4 linked regions of the Homo sapiens genome follow. The protein of the gene in region 1 interacts with the protein of each later gene in a biochemical or structural test. Each region holds a gene or a part of one and is shown in the gene's direction. Other genes may lie near its edges.

Region 1 (5,424 bases):
CAATAATAATGACTACCACATACTGAGCACTTACTGTGTGTCAGGCGCTGTGTTAGGCAGTTTACATACCTTCCCCTCATTTCATTTCATTCTCACAACAACACTATGAGGTAAATACTATAATGACCCTTATTTTACAGACTGAGGCTCAGAAGGGTCAAGGAACTTGACAAAAGTTATACAGACAGCACAATTAGAGGCCAAGTCAATGGTTTCCTACTGCCCAAACCTGTGCTTTACAATATATATCTGACCACTCTTTTCTTTTCTTTTCTTTATCTGGATATATTGGGAACACTACTTTTGGGGCTATCAGCCATGATTAGAGTTATGTGCCAGATCACAAGGAAACTAAGATTGGGAAACTAGGAGAGGTGGTACAAGGGAGAGAAGGAAGGAGGAAGGGACAGAGAATTTTGTTAGGCAAAAGTTCAACTAAGAAACCACATACGTCAGTGCTTCTCAAACTGTACTGTGCACTCAAATCACCTGAAACTCGTTAAAATGAAGATTATTATTCAGCAGATCTAGGGAGGGGCCTGAGATCCTGCATTTCTAAAAAGCTCCCAGGTGTGCTGCTCCTGCTGGCCCACGGACAACACTTTGAACAGTAAGGCCATATAGTGCAAATGATAAACAAAAAAATTCAAGCATCCATTAACACCTGCTTCCTAATTTAATCCAGATCAGCTTCTACACTAAACAGTCACTTATTATCCTCTTTTCTCCTGTAGCCTGTCTCAGGCCATTGTCTCCGCTTTAGTTCTGCCAGTCTGTTTCAGCTTATGTTTGTTTATTTATTTATTTGTACAAATTTAAGGGGTTCGAGTGCAGTTTTGGTACATGGATATATTGCAGAGTGGTGAAGTCTGGGCTTTTAATGTAACCGTCACCCAAACAGTGTAGATTGTACCCATTAAGTAATTTCTCATCTCTCACCTCCATGACATGTTTATGTTTAACTACTCATTTAAATACAGGTGTTAAATACATATGAACATCTTCTGTCACTCTGAGCACTAGGCAGTCTCAATCAGACATGAATTTCTCTTGGCACAAAGTAGATATTTGGCCACAGGGTTCCAGTCCTCAACAATGGCTCTCAGCTCTCTCACCCATTAGGAACAGTCTTATAAAGGTAAGGCATGTAGTAACACTACTGTCCCAGCGCTTTCTAATTTCCTTTCTTAGAGCTACTGCCTTCATCTGGAGCAGAAAGTAGCCTGGCTTTTTAAAGAGTCCAGATCCTTGTTCCTTTCACATAGTTGAAACAATCCCAGCATTAGTTTAAGGCAACCATTGAAAAGATTCTTTGCAGAGTCCTGCCAACTCCAAAAGCCCAGTGAAGTTTGTTTCCTGGAAGATAATTTACTTTATTTTGCCACCTCCTCTCCTCCGTCCTCTTAGGATTTTGACTGATCATTTTGAGCCATTCTTCATGTTTTTCTTCTATTTTTAGACTCTCTGACTAATTTTCTCCAGTAGCAAGAGTCAAGGAAAGCTTTCCACTCCAACCAAGCTCTACTTTTTAGGTAGGAAATATTCTCTCACAGTGTTTACAGATCAACTTGGTGATCTGTGGTCCCTGGCAACTGGATTGCTTTTCTATCTTCTCTTTAACCTTTGGGGATGTTAACCTTGGGGGTGACCCTTCTAACACCTTTAGCAGGTAGGTGTTCATTGCAGCCTCCACATGAATAGATTAGGTAAGTTCACATTCTATCACTGGATGAATTAAAAACTCTGCTAAAAAAGAATTGTAATCTTCTGTTTTTAACTTCTATCCATTAATCTTACTTTTATCATATGGAGCAGAAATAGCACTTTCAATATTTCAAGACATTTGTCATATCCTCCTTTAACCATCTCTTTGCTAGACTAAACATCCCCAATTTCTAATCAGTCCTCAGTTACTTCTTGACCCTTCATTCATTCAATAAACATCAGATGCACTATGATTTGTAAATGTTCACTTTAAAATACAGTACCTCGAAATGGAACGTAGTGCTCGCTGTGTAGTTTGACCAGCATGGAGCACATTGGGACTGCCACTCCTTGTGATGGTCTGATGCAATTTCATGATCATACCAGCTTAAAAAAGAGTAACTCACTTCTTCACATCTAGTGAGTACCTACTTTGGGTCAGGTACCTAACATCAACTAGAAACCTCTGTTTTCAGTGGTAGAGGTTCTCTGTTCTTTCTTACCCCATGGGGCCTGGAGATGGTACAGCCACCCTCTTCCAATCCTTCCTACTATCATCTGCTGTACTTTAGTTCTCTCACCTATTGAGGACTTCACCTCCTCACTGATAGTCTTCCTTTCCACCCCAACTCTAGCCACCATCCTGAGTGATCTTAATGTCCTCATAGATGACCCATTTATAAGCTTCATCCTTTCAATCATTTTACCTCCACTCTGCTTCACCAACTATTTTCAATGATCCACTTTATTCTCAGCAGATGATCTCACCTCTTATTCCATTATGAAAATCTAGGTCGTTGGATGCTAACACTCATTTTCCTGTCCTAACCCCACCCTGCCACATAGTTGTGTCCCTACATGTCCTAACCTCTTTTTTTTTTTTTTTTTTTTTTTGGGCTTGCAGAAATACACATAGCTTCTCCAGTTCAAGGCTAATTTCTCTACGTATGCTTTGGAGCCCATTCTTTCTCACCTCCATGAGGACTTACTTCATCAGTTATCCCTCCTCTCATCTGTGTCTTCAACAACTCCTTCTCTACTTACTGGCTGCTTCCCATCAACCTTCAGGCATGATCAACTTTCACTCTAAAAAAAGAAACAAACAAATTTTCCTTCGCCTCTATCCCCAACTGGCATTTGCCCTATTTCTCTTCTTTTATTGTTATGGAATCTTTTCTAAAGTGTAGACACTCTCCATTTCCTCACCTCCTGTTAAAAACTCAGCTCCCACTATGGCTTTTCTGTTCCCAGAACACCACTGTTATTTCTCTTTTAAGTAAACCAATGACATCCTAATTGCCAAATCTAATGAACAATGTTAAGTCTTTATTTTACTGGACCTCTCTCTGATGTATTTAACATAATTGATTGCTCTCACCCTACTTCTGTCCTCATGACTCTCATGACCTACTCCTTGGCTTTGGTGATGTTGCACATCTTCTGACTGTCCTCATTCCTCTCTGATTACTCCTTCTTATGCTGTTTTGTGGACTTTTCGTCTGCCACCCCTTAAATGCCAGTCTTTCCCAGGTTTTTTCATTCCTCACCTTTCCCCTAGATCATCTCATCCATACCCATGGTTTTATCTACCATCCTATTGAGCCCCAAATCTGTGTCTGTGGTCCCAGACACAGACCTCTCTTGAGAGCTCCAAACCCATATACTAGTTAATACTTGACACGTGTAATATGGCACATCCTACAGGTACCTCAAGACCAAACTCAGTATGTTCCAAATTCATCTTTTTTATTCCAATCTGCCCTTCCTCCTCTGTCTGCCCAACTGACACCATTTTGGTGACTCAGACCTCTATCTACACAGTTGACCTCTATCTACACAGTGCTGAAACTCGGTAGTCATCCTGAATTTCTCATTCAACCAGTCACCAAGACCTGTTCAGTCTGTCTTCTAAGTATCTATCTGAGATGTGTTTCCTTTATGTTACTACAGCATATTATTAGTCCAGGCTTTCCATAATCTTTTTGTTTTTTAACCATTCAAATAGCTCCGTAACTGGTCTTCCTGCCTCTTGGCCTGCTCCCCCTTAGTCTATCCTTCACACTGTGATAGAATGCATTTTCTCTAATGCAAATCAGATCACATCACTCCTCTGCTTGAAGCCCTATCATGGTTCCCACTGCTTACTGGTACAGTCCAAGCTGCTCCACAAGGCTTACAAGGCCCCTCACAATCTGGCCTTGCCTACCCTTCCAATCTTATCTCCTATCATCTTTTCCTTATTTTCTTTGCCCAAATAACGTCAGACTGAACACCCCCCATCACGCCTTCATGCCTTCATACACACTGTTCTCTCTGCCTAGAATGACCCCTTGGTCTTCCAGTCAAATCTTTATTCAGCTTTCAAAATTGGACTCAGACTATGTCTGGGTAGATACACAAGAAACTAGTGACAATGATTGGGTGGCTGGGGCACAGGAGTGGGAAGAAGACTTCCTTTTTCCACCTATTTGTACATTCTGCATTTTGTAACACAAATCTGAATTCACTATTCAAAAAAGTAAATACTACGTAAATTTTTTGTTAAAAAAGCTCAGGAATCAGGTCCTTTAGAAAGTTGTTTTCCCCTCCTCATCCTCCTCTGTAGTTTTGTACTCCCTTCTTTGTGCTACCTCTGGGCCTACTGTGTGCTCCTGTGATTAGAATAATTACATTGCATTGCAATTTGTATGTTAAGTTGTCCATCTCCCCAGATTGTGAGCTACCTGAGGGAAAGGGCTGCATCTTACTTTTTATTGTTTCCCCAGAATTTAACATAGTGCTCTATAAATGTTGATTGAATGAATGGAGAAACAAGTGAAGAGAAGAATAAAGTAGAGGATGCCCCACATTATAAAACAAAGCTCCCATGCCAGTTATCTTTCCCAATATCCATCAATCTGTCCTTTTGCCACGTGTTGAGCTTGAAAGTAATACTTTACATTTATACTTTTTTTTTTTTCTGAGACAGGGTCTCACTCTGTCACCCAGGCTGGAGTGCAATGGCACAATTATGGCTCACTTCAGCCTCGATCTCCTGGGCTCTAGATCCTCCTACCTCAGCCTTCCAAGTAGCTGGGACTATAGTCACATGCCACCACGCCATGCTAATATTTGTAATCTGTTGTAAAGATGAGGTTTCACCATGTTGCCCAGGCTGGTCTTGAACTCCTGGGATTAAGCAATCCACCTGCCTCGGCCTCCCAAAGTGCTGGGATTGCAGGCGTGAGCCACTGCACCCGGCCTTACATTTATTCTTAAGTACTATCCATCAATTATCTTGTCAATTTGGGCTCAGCATCATGTAAGACTGCCCAGATCATTTCAAAGTCCCTCTTATTTTTGTGTTATGTGTAGATTTGATATGTATTTGTATATCCTATTTTGAATCACTTGATCAGAATATTGATACAATACCTATTGCTTATTGAACACCTACAGTGTGTCAAACACTGTGCTGGGTGTTTTTACATATGACATTGTCACAGTATTTGTTGCAAGATAGGTATTTTGCTCTCCAGTTTACAGATGAGAAGATTGAAATCAGTATTGTTAAGTGCCCTGCCTAGGGTCATATTGCTAGTAAATGGTGAAGTTGAGATTTGAACCAAGGTCTTTTGACTTCAAAATTCATGCTTGAGTCATAACACTACATTGATTCAAAGGGGCATCTCCACTGCTTCACTACTGGGTGCCTAGCTCAAGGCAGCCCATTGTCTTTGG
Region 2 (3,935 bases), on another chromosome or scaffold:
TGGAGTCTTTGGAGCCAGACAATGTGACCTAAGCGTTGAGCTCTTCCTCGTCCCAGCACTGGATGAAGAAAAGGCTCTCTGTCCGCGTCACTGGAGGGCTCCCCCAGCTGCCGGGGGCTGGCTCCGTGGTGGACGCTGACCTTGGGGATGGCAAGAGCAGATGGTGGTGTTTTTGTTTTTTTTAAGTCTGGGCCACAGCAGTTTAGGAAATTCTGATAGCTGGCGTGGATAGAAAGTGAGCAGACAGGGTTGGAGCTGAGATTGTTTTTAGCTGAAAAGAAGAAGCCTTCCAGCAGATCTGTGCTGTAGAAATGTGGGCCATGGTCCTATTGGTGGGGAATGGGGAGCAGTGGCCCCGCAGGAGGCCCAAGGAGACCCTGGGCGAGGGGGGTCATTCCCACCTCCAGACACGAGTGCTAGACTGCGTTCAGTTTGTGAAATTCACTGAGCTGCATGCTTAGAATGCTGTGTTTATGTTCTATTCCAATGCAAAGTTTGATGTTTTATTTATTTAGAGACTGGGGCTCGCTCTGTTGCCCAGCCTGGAGTGCAGGGCATGATCCCGGCTTACTGCAGCCGCGACTTCTAGGCTGAAGCAACTCTCCCGCCTCTGCCTCCCGAGTAGCTGGGACTACAGTTACTCACCACCATGCCCAGCTAATGATTTTCTAATTTTTTTAGAGATAGGGTCTTGTTATATTGCCCAGGCTGGTCTCGAACTCCTAGCGTCAAGCAATCCTCCCACCTCCCAAAGTGCTGGGATTGCTGGCATGAGCCACCATGCCAACATTTGGTGGAATTTTTTTTTAAGTGATGCCTTCAGCAAAGCAGAAATTGCCCTTTCTCAAAATGATGAGCTCATGGTTGAGAACCTTGCAGATACTCCTGGGACCTGCCAGCCTCGCCGCCTCACCCTTCATGTGTTCCCTACCCTCTTACTTGAAGGCTGGCTAGGGTAGCAGGTGTTTTGGGGTGTGTGTGTGTGTGCGTGTGTGTGTATGTGTGTGTGTGTGTGTTTGAGACAGTGTCTCACTCTGTCACCCAGGCTGGAATGCAGTGGCACCATCTCGGCTCACCGCAACCTCCACCTCCCGGGTTCAAGTGATTCTCCTGCCTCAGCCTCCCGAGTAGCTGGGATTACAGGCGTGGGCCACCGCACCCAGCTAATTTTTATACTTTTAGTAGAGACAGGGTTTTGCCGTGTTGGCCAGGCTGGTCTCGAACTCCTGACCCCAAGTGATCGGCCCGCCTGGGCCTCCCAAAGTGCTGGGATTACAGGCGTGAGCCACCACGCCCGGCTGGTAGCAGGTGTTTCATTCAAACTCATTCACGCCACCTGGTTCACCCCGTCCGGGGCCTCATCTCTGCCCATGAACATCACTGTGGTCAGCAGAGTCCTGGAGTGTCCAGACTCATGTGGGGGTCTCATCTCCTGGATCAGCGGCAGGTGGCTTTCAGGGCTCCCGCCCCGCTATAGACCCCAACCCTGCATCCAGGCCCCGCTGCAGGCACCTTCACAGGAGCGGGAGGTGGGTGGGCTGCTGCTGACCAAAGCCGCTGTGCCCGCAGAACAAGCACTGCCTGCTGGAGGCTGGGATCGGCTGCACAAGAGACTTGATCAAGTCCAACATCTACCCCATCGTGCTCTTCATCCGGGTGTGTGAGAAGAACATCAAGAGGTTCAGGTAGGGCTCCCAGACCCCTAAGGGCTGTCCCCTCCTGTCCCTAGCACCCCACCAAGCCTCCATGGATCGCAGGAGGCCTGTGTGCCCCCACCTCATGCACCCCTTTTGTAAACCCTCACCAAGTACGGGACTGACCTTGCAGAGCTGATGCCAAGGACAGCGGCCGAGATGGTGACTCACATATGGGGCGCATCCCAGGGGACAAGAGCTGGGAGGGACGGGGCGGAGTGCCCATCACCCAGGGTGGTCCGGGAAGGCCTGGGGTATCCATCAGCGAGACCCATGGCAGTGAGGGGGGCCTAGGAGATGAGAAAGAAGACGCAATCTGGGCAGCAGGGGAACAGCTGGTGCTCAGACCCTGAGACAGATGTTTGGGCGGAATGGTGAGGGACGGAGGGGTGAGGGGCGGAGTGGTGAGGGACAGAGGGGTGAGAGGCTGAGGAGTGAGGGGCGGAGGGTGAGGGACGGAGAGTGAGAGGCTGAGGGGTGAGGGGCGCAGGGGTGAGAGGCAGAGGGTGAGGGGTGGAGGGGTGAGGGGCGCAGGGGTGAGGGGCGGAGGGGTGAGAGGCTGGGGAGTGAGGGGCAGAGGGTGAGGGACAGAGGGGTGAGAGGCTGAGGAGTGAGGGGCGGAGGGTGAGGGACGGAGAGTGAGAGGCTGAGGGGTGAGGGGCAGCGGGTCCAGGCCATGCAGGGCCACGGGAGGCTGCGACATCTTGTTCTGGGTGCATCTGGAGGCCACTGAAGGTGGCATGGTCCACTTTAGGGTATAAACGCACCTCTCACCTCTGGACACGGGCAGGGTGGCGGTGTGGGCCGGGCTTCTGTCTGAGAGGCGATGAGAGGCAGTCTGACTCCGAATCCGTGTTCAGGGTCGAGCCTGCAGGATTCGGGAAAGGGTTCACTCTGGGGTTCCAGAGAACCAGAGGCTGGGCGCGGTGGCTCACGCCTATAATCCCCACACTTTGGGAGGCCAAGGTGGGCACATCAGCTGAAGTTGGTAGTTTGAGACCAGCTTGGCCAACATGGTGAAACCCCATCTCTACTAAAAATACAAAAAAAATTAGCTGGGCGTGGTGGCGGGCACCTGTAGTCCCAGCTACTCAGGAGGCAGAAGCAGGAGAATCGCTTGAACGTGGGAGGGGCAGGTTGCAGTGAGCTGAGATCGAGCCACTGCACTCCAGCCTGGGCGACAGAGTGAGACTCCATCTCAGAAAAAAAAAAACAAAAAAAAAAAAACGAAAGGACGGCGCTGAGGTTTGGGGCCTGGGTGATGAGGACAGACTGGCCCTTAAGTGGCTTCATCTCGGATCCCCGCCCCTCCTCGCACGCACCTGCAAAATAAATGTCCTGCCACCATTTTGCAGAGGGAATCACAGACTGAGAGTTTAGGCCCATTCATTCCTTTTCACCAGATACTCACTGAGCCATTGTGAAGGGTTAGGCTCTGGGGAACGCAGCAGTGAGCAAAAGAGACGGGCATCCCCCTCGATACCTCACACCCGTTAGGCTGGCCAGGACCAAAAGGACAGAAACTGACAAGTGTTGACGAGGAGGGTAGACGTCGGAACCCGGTGCACAGCTGCTGGAAATGCAAAAGAGAGCGGCCACTGTGGAGGACAGCATGGCGATGCCCCCAAAAATTAAAAATAGAATACTATATAATCCAGCAACCCCACCTGCGGGCATATCCCCAAGAGAATTGAGAGCAGGGTCTGTAAGAGACATATACACGCCCGTGTTCACAGCAGCGTTACTCCCAATAGCCAAAACGTAGACGTCACCTAAGGGTCGGTCTGTGGGGAGTGAATACACACAATAGGGCCCATCCATACAGGCTAGGAAGGTGGCAAGAGCTGAAAACCTTGCAAACTGTTAACAAAAAAAGAGTTGAAACAAAGAAACAATAATACATTTAATGCATGAGAAATACTAGCATGGTACATACCCCCTTCCCTGATCTGTCCTGCCTGGGAATGTGTTTATGGTGCAGTGTGTATCACAACAAAAATACTGTATGGAGTATTTTTTTTTTTTTGAGACGGAGTCTCACTCTGTCACCCAGGCTGAAGTGCAGTGGCACGATCTCGGCTCACTGCAGCCTCCACCTCCCAGGTTCAAGAGATTCTCCTACCTCAGCCTCCCGAGTAGCTGGGATTACAGGTGCCCACCACCATGCCTGGCTAATTTGTGTATTTTTACTAGAGATTGGGTTTCACCATGTTGGCCAGCTGGTCTCGAACTCCTGACTTC
Region 3 (3,935 bases), on another chromosome or scaffold:
GTGTATTAGAGCCATACAAAGTCTTTGTGTTTATGTATAAATTGGAGTTGAATCCTGGACTCAGGTAACTGTAAACAAGTATTGCATGCACATGAATGTCCAGAGGGATCTGTGAAGATGGTGCAGGGTATAGAATGACTCATCACTGTATCGAGCTGTTTTTTGCATGGCAGGATATTCAGCATCTCTGACTCCTGTCTGCTGAATGCCGGTAGCTCCCTTATGATCATTGTCATAATCAAAAACATCCCCAGTCTTTCTGAAAATTGCCCCTGGTGGGCACTGGTAGCCCCACGTAGAACCACTGGCCCAGCAGGCGTGATGTCTAGGGTTTCCTCAGACTCCAGGAGGGCCATTGTTCAGGTGGGAAGTGCGCCAGGCCGCTCACCAGGTGCACTGCCCTGCTGACCATCTTTCCTCTCTGGCTGCTGTTCCAGGCTCAGCTGATTGCACAGTCCATCGGACAGGCATTTAGCGTGGCATACCAGGAATTCCTCAGGGCCAATGGGATTAACCCCGAAGATCTCAGCCAGAAGGAGTATAGTGACCTGCTCAATACCCAGGACATGTACAACGATGACCTGATCCACTTCTCCAAGTCGGAAAACTGTAAAGATGTGGGTACTTACCTGAAGCTGTTCTCCAGGCTGGGTCAGCTGGGCAGGGGCTTGGAAAGTGGGGCACCCTGCCGCGGAAGTGAAGGGAGATCAATGGTGAGGAGTGCCGTATTGGCAGGACATCATGAAGTCGTTCACCCCCATCTCTCGCTCCCTGCTGTGGGGCCCTGTCATGAAATGCTATTGTGGACAGGTGTAAACAGAGAGGCAGCACATCCTCTGCTCCTGGTCATCCTGAGCTAAGTTTTGGGTGGGTCCCAGAGGCAGATAGGACCTGAACTCTGCTTGTACAAACACTGCAATCTAGGTAAGGGCACTGAAAAAGTTAAATGATGGTGCCAGGTACAGGCACTAATCAAAACCAACTACACTTGGACAAACAGAGAAGATCTCAAGTTTCAGACAAGAGGTGCTGTGCTTCTCTGGGGATGGCCTGTGGCTTCAAACTGAGCTATTCAGGAATGCCTGTAGGAAGATGAGGCTATCCAAGCTGGTCTGGCGATCTGGGGATTGTAGGGGCAAGCCGAGGGTGGGGTCTATGGAATGGTTGGAAGCCTGGAGATCAGAAAGCTCCACATTTGTCTAGGGAATGAGGAAATACGGTTTGGCTAGAGCAGGAGGTAGGCACAGGAAAGGAGATAGATGGGCCTGAGATCTGGGTCAGAACTGGAGGGCCTGCAAGTCCAGCTGAGGGGTTTGGACTTGATCCCATAGGTAAAAAGAACTTTTAATGAGAAAGTGATCATTTGATCCACTGGGGTCTGTCAGGTGTCTTAGGTCAGATTCCCCAGAAGCAGAGCCTGAGGCAGGGATTCTTGTCACAGAGGTTTGTTGGGAGAGTGCCTCAGAACAGAAGGGATGTGGGAAGCTTGGTGGTGGGACACCAAGTAAGGGTGTGGTCCCTTGGACATGAGCTTCCTTCTGTCCAGAGGGAAGCTCCATGGCACATATTGCAGGACAGATTTGTCTCACCTTGGAGCGAGGGAGCTGGCAAGCCTTTGTACCCCATGCCGGTTATTGGCCAAGGCTGGACAGGGGGTATATGAATTTACTAGGGCTGTTGTCACAAAGTACCATGGACTGGGTGACTTCAACAACACAAACCTATTGTCTCACAGACCTTGTGGCCAGAAGTCCAAAAGCAAGGTGTTGTTAGCATTGGTTCCTTCTGAGAGCCGTGAGAGAAGAATCTGTTCCAAGCCTTTCTCTGGCTTGTAGATGGCTGTCTTCATGCTGTGTCTTCACATCAGCCTTTCTCCATGCATGTCCCTATGTCCAAATTTCCTCTTTTTTTTTTTGATACCCATGACAGACAACCATTCCTCTTCTTAAATAAGGACATGAGTAATATTGGATTAGAGTCCATATTAATCACCTCATTTAAAATTGGTTACCTCTGCTAAGACCTTATCTCCAAATAAAGTCACAATCTAAGTCAAAGGCACTGGGGGTTGGTAATTCAACATACAAATTTTGGGGGGACACAATTCAACCTTAACAGAATGTGTCTCCCTTTCAGCTAAGGACAGTTCTCCAGGGAAGGGGCTGACTGTAAGCTTCAGCAGCTGGGGGAAGCAGACACCAACCTGTGAAGGGGACTTTGTCAAGCCCCCCAAAAATACACATACACACTCTGTTGGGTGCTTCCAAGAGGTGTGGTACCTTTTAGTGGCATATCTGCAGGCCTCCCCAGAGTGCAAGTATCCAACATCAACCCCTGTCTTCTCTGCCCTGCCAGTGAAGGTTGTGAAAAGTCTGTGTATCCAGGATATGCACTTCCTGTGTGCACACCCAGCCTTTTGGTTGTGATAACTTCAGCATCACTTTTTCTTTTTTCTCAACTTTTTCCTTGCAGAGAAGTGTTTCTGTGTGTTTATTTATTTTTAACTCAAGAAAATTAAATGTCGGAGCGAATTGGGGAAGCACTGTGGGAGGGGGAACCTGCGCATGGAATTTGAAAAGCTATTTCTAGAAACCATAACACACCACCCACCCACAGAGCCTCATCCCCTGCCACTGAGGACAGGACTGAAGAAATTAAAAAAAAAAAAAAAAAAAAAAAAAACTGGTGGTCCTCATGGTTGTGTGCTGAGGCAAGTTTGCTTATGTGAAACGAGTGAATTACAAAAGAGTGTAGACCTGTGTGAATTCATTTCTTAAAAACTCCAAATATGCGGAATGCTGAGAAGACAGGAACTCATCTGGGTTGGTGTCCCCAGGGAAGTGTCTTTCTTTAGGCAAGACAGGAATGGGGGAGAGGCTTTCATTTCTACCTACCCCAGATGGTCACTGATGGAGGTTTTCTAAATGTTTTTCTCCTTCCAGGTTTTCATAGAGAAGCAGAAAGGAGAAATCCTAGGTGTGGTGATTGTGGAGTCTGGCTGGGGATCCATCCTCCCCACCGTGATCATTGCCAACATGATGCATGGTGGCCCTGCGGAGAAATCTGGGAAGCTGAATATCGGTGACCAGATCATGTCCATTAATGGCACCAGCCTGGTGGGCCTGCCTCTGTCCACCTGCCAGAGCATTATTAAGGTACCTGAATATGGGAAAAATCAGTTGATGTGGTAAACCTCAAGTGATGTGAAGTGTGACCCCCATCCAGTCATTAATGTATATGAACATATTCAAAGTGTCAGGCACCAAGGAAGACACAAACACAAAAGGCGTGGACTTGCACTCAGGAAGCTTACCATCAAGTTACTGTTTACAGATTCTTCCCTGAAATCAATTTAGATTAGGGGAAGTGTATTTGGTTCACATGACACTACTTTCTGATAGCAGCATGTCCATCACAGCATCACTAGTCAATCACAGCATTCTCCCACTAAGCCCAGACTCAGCCTCAACAGAAATGGCCTCAGCTTGGGAATCCAGACAGTCACTTATAGTCAGCCAGATACACTTGGCATGATTTACCATCCCTGTCAAAAATGTCAGAAATGCTTCAAATCTGAGAGTGCTTTTTCCTTCCCAGTGGCCCTGACTATGATGCAGGTGAGTTTGTCCTCCCTCAGACCCCGGGTAAAGCAACTCACATGTGCTCATTGCCAGAAGGAGGAGGAAACTCTCTTCCAGTCCATGGAAGCTTTTTCATACCTGAGCATACTTCCTGCTCAACCTGAACTGATGCTTATAAAGCTAAGAAGAGCTACTTAAAGGAAAATTAAATGTGAATACTTGAGAAGAAATGAGATTTTCTTTAGACATGAAGCATTCATGTGGAGTTTTTTGAGCACATTGGGACTTGCTGAATGCATGGCCAGTGTGACCAGGATGTTCCTCCTCCATGATGGCATCTGTAGACCCCAGTAG
Region 4 (3,350 bases), on another chromosome or scaffold:
ATCTTGTTGGTTGAAATGTAAGTCTTTTCCTAAAGTTTTAATCAGAGGTAGCCATCACTAAGACTTAAGCCACCTGTGGTTCTCTTAAGTTTCACTGAAGCCAGAAGAAGGAAATTACCACAACTTGTATTATACTAATTATCTTCATTATTAACGATCATATTAGAGCCACTGACATGTCCCAAATTATATTAAAATAAAAACCTGCATTGCTCTGACATGAAGCTCAATTCAATGTAATAAACAAATTAGGTATTAAACGTTATAATTTAAAAAACTTCTACGATATCACCAGAAATCCTGGTGAAATTTAATTTTTTCCCTTTTTTAGGTCAGTGGCCGGTGGGATAGATTTTTCTAAACTTTTTCCTGCTATGATTTTGAAGGCAAATACATAGAGCACAGTTCAGTAAAAGAGTTTCCAAGCCTTTTCACTGGAGCATTTACATTTTGATTCTGTTGTCATTTGAAATAGAACATCTGCAGGGAGATAATGAGCTTAAGTTACAATTGACTTTGGAAAGAATAACAGACTTTTGTGTTTCCTCAATCATGTAGTCAATAGGGAATTCTCCAGTTATGTGAACAATCACAGTCTTTTAAGACAATACTTAGATCTAAATGCAAAATCTAGCATGCAGAGGCTTTTTAAGGATTTTAGACTGTCTCCAAAGAACTTGGCTCGAGATGGATTACACAGATTTACAAATGCAGTTTTCAACTGTGACATCAAACTGATCTTATCTCATTTCATGTTACTCAACTGTGCCCGTAGGACCCCAAGAGGTGGAATATTTTGTCTACATTATTTTAAACATCTATAGATATGTGTGGATGTGTGAATAATGCCTAAATTTCTCATCTTTTAACTAGTTTGTTTTTATCATACAGACACAGCCTGTTCATAAGACCAGCTTTAGACAACTTAGAACTCAATGCTCTGAAGATTCAGGGAGGCCAACATAGAAAAAGATCTTCCAAAATATGGGGTGGTCCAACCCATCTCATCCCTCTCTAGCTGGAAAACTATAGAGAAAGGGCTGTGACTGCCTTGACCACTGCCTGGCACAATGTAGGCACTCGGTATTTGTTGGATGAATAAGTGGCTGAATCAGTGAATAGACAAAAAACATGGATTTTGCCTTCTGAAAATCTCACAAATTTTACCAGCTTATATTATACTGATTGTCACTATGATTTCTAAGTTTCATGGTTAGAACCATATTTTGAGTCTATATAAAAACTTTTTAGATGTATGAATTTGAAATTTCATTAATTACTTTAAAGGCTTCAAAGATTTGAGGACATTTGAACAGTGGATAAGGAACAATGTTTGGGGATACAGAGTTTTTATGCTGAGTTGAACTCAACCTTTCTAGTTCTTTATACAAGCTTCCTGAATTATCTGGCAGGAATGATTCAAACATAAAACCCCATTTTTAAATTTTATAAAAGATATTTTCATTTTTATATAAAAAGATCATCAGGCATATTATCCCCTTTGATATTTATTAACAACCATTCTCTAAGAAATTCATAATAATTGGAGACACCATCCCTAAATCTCTTCCTATTTTCAAAAGATCATTTATCCTTTCATATTTGATTCCTGGAATACACTAAGCTGAAGTTTAATCACATACTTACTCAGATGTTTCCATGTGTTTATTCATTTAACAAATACTTATTGTGTACCTAGTGCATGCTAGGTTCTGGAAATGCAACAGCAAACAAGACAGACACAATCCCTCTTGGAGGTTACTGTGAGAAACTCTCCAACATTTACTCTAGCAATAACTAGAGAGTTTACTGTCCATTGGGTCCTCTTCACACCTGATAGAAAAAATAAAATTCCTCACCCCATGGAAGTCATGAAATACTCCCTGCACAGATTTGTGTGAGCTTGCTTTTCTAAAACCACTGCTCAAAAATGCTGCTTAGTTTATCTATAAACCACGGTTATACCCCAGTGAGGTAGGTAAGTAATTTATTCATAACTAACATTTATGCAGCTCTATTTTCTAGCCACTGTGCTGAGTGCTTTTATGGACTATCTCACCAAATCCCTTCAACAACTCTATTCAGTAGGTTCCATTTTATAGATACAAAAACTGAAGCACAGATATATTATGTGACTTGTCCAAGGTCACACAGCTAGCAGGTGGAACTGGGATTTGAACCCATGCAATCTGACACAAGAGTTCATGTGTCTAATCATTATCTGTGGTTTGGGGGACACCATTACATTAAAATGAATGAGTCACTAAGTGAGTCACTGTATATAAAATACTTGGAAATTGTAAAGTAATATACAAAAGATATTAACAAAGTATTATTCATGGTAAACAAATCACATCAGTAGCAAACACAGGGTGGGAACTCAATCTTATGTTATAGCTTACTCTTAAGAAGAATATGTGAAGCCAGGAACATGGTTAAAGGTACAGACCAGAAAATTTCTGACATGTGATAAATATTTCAGTGACTTTTCAGATTTATTTCTTGTTAGCCGCTGTGTCTATTTGGTGCTACAAAAACTGAAAGAAACAAAATCCCTGATGTAAGGGCTTATAATAAATACACAGTTTGGAGATGAACTAAGGATATTTTACATTTACGGGAAAGGATTGGACAATAGTATCATTTTCTCACCATTTGCATGTACATCATGTCTTTCCAATTGTTTTCATTATTTTTCTGAAAGAGCTGCAAAATTGTGCAGTGGTTCAACCTGACCAAAGTGGTATTATGCTGCTGGGAAGTAAAAGTATTAGACACCAAACTGGAAGTATTGTTTTCATTATCAAATGACTTTAAGTTCTTTTAAAGCATGGATGTAAAAGAATTTTTAGATACTGAAGACACCTCAATATTGGGATGCTAAGTTTCTTGGGTTTCTCCATTCTTGACCACACAGTGGTGTCATTCTATTGAGGGCTTAGATTCTGTAAAGGAAAAGACAAATTTTTTTTTTTTTTGCTTTCTAGTCTCAAACTCAACATAGAACACTTCTGTGACCAAATGTAAAGGTTTCCCCACCCCCCCACCCCATCAATTTTCCAAGCAGGTACCAAATGGATGTCCTATAATTCAATTCAATTCTGAAACTATTTACTTGAAGATGGTGTAGATTCCACAGATTGAGGGCTCAGTCTCACAACACTTAGCCTACTTAAGATGCCAATTGCAAGTAGTAGGTTGTCACCTGTCCTTTGACTGGCTGGAGACTGAGATTCTCACAAGCCCTTCTTTGGGTTCAGCTGGGACAGCTCACAAAACTGAGGAAAACACCTACTTAGTTTACTGGTTTATTATAAAATGAATCATAAAGGGAATTTTTACCCAGTTCA

Evidence for each region.
Region 2: the proteins of NCBP2L (region 1) and CARD11 interact in a test that uses a peptide from one of them, tested with the Homo sapiens proteins (one large-scale study listed by IntAct).
Region 3: the proteins of NCBP2L (region 1) and APBA1 interact in a test that uses a peptide from one of them, tested with the Homo sapiens proteins (one large-scale study listed by IntAct).
Region 4: the proteins of NCBP2L (region 1) and LIN7A interact in a test that uses a peptide from one of them, tested with the Homo sapiens proteins (one large-scale study listed by IntAct).

The regions. Positions count from the first base shown.
Region 1 is NC_000023.11:107,786,600-107,792,023, forward strand, and holds part of NCBP2L (nuclear cap-binding protein subunit 2-like), read left to right. Parts: intron 1-5,424.
Region 2 is NC_000007.14:2,907,800-2,911,734, reverse strand, and holds part of CARD11 (caspase recruitment domain-containing protein 11), read left to right. Parts: intron 1-1,569; coding exon 1,570-1,685; intron 1,686-3,935. UniProt on the Homo sapiens protein: Adapter protein that plays a key role in adaptive immune response by transducing the activation of NF-kappa-B downstream of T-cell receptor (TCR) and B-cell receptor (BCR) engagement.
Region 3 is NC_000009.12:69,448,804-69,452,738, reverse strand, and holds part of APBA1 (amyloid-beta A4 precursor protein-binding family A member 1), read left to right. Parts: intron 1-437; coding exon 438-617; intron 618-2,942; coding exon 2,943-3,155; intron 3,156-3,935. UniProt on the Homo sapiens protein: Putative function in synaptic vesicle exocytosis by binding to Munc18-1, an essential component of the synaptic vesicle exocytotic machinery. May modulate processing of the amyloid-beta precursor protein (APP) and hence formation of APP-beta.
Region 4 is NC_000012.12:80,791,952-80,795,301, reverse strand, and holds the end of LIN7A (protein lin-7 homolog A), read left to right. Parts: 3' UTR 1-2,782; downstream 2,783-3,350. UniProt on the Homo sapiens protein: Plays a role in establishing and maintaining the asymmetric distribution of channels and receptors at the plasma membrane of polarized cells.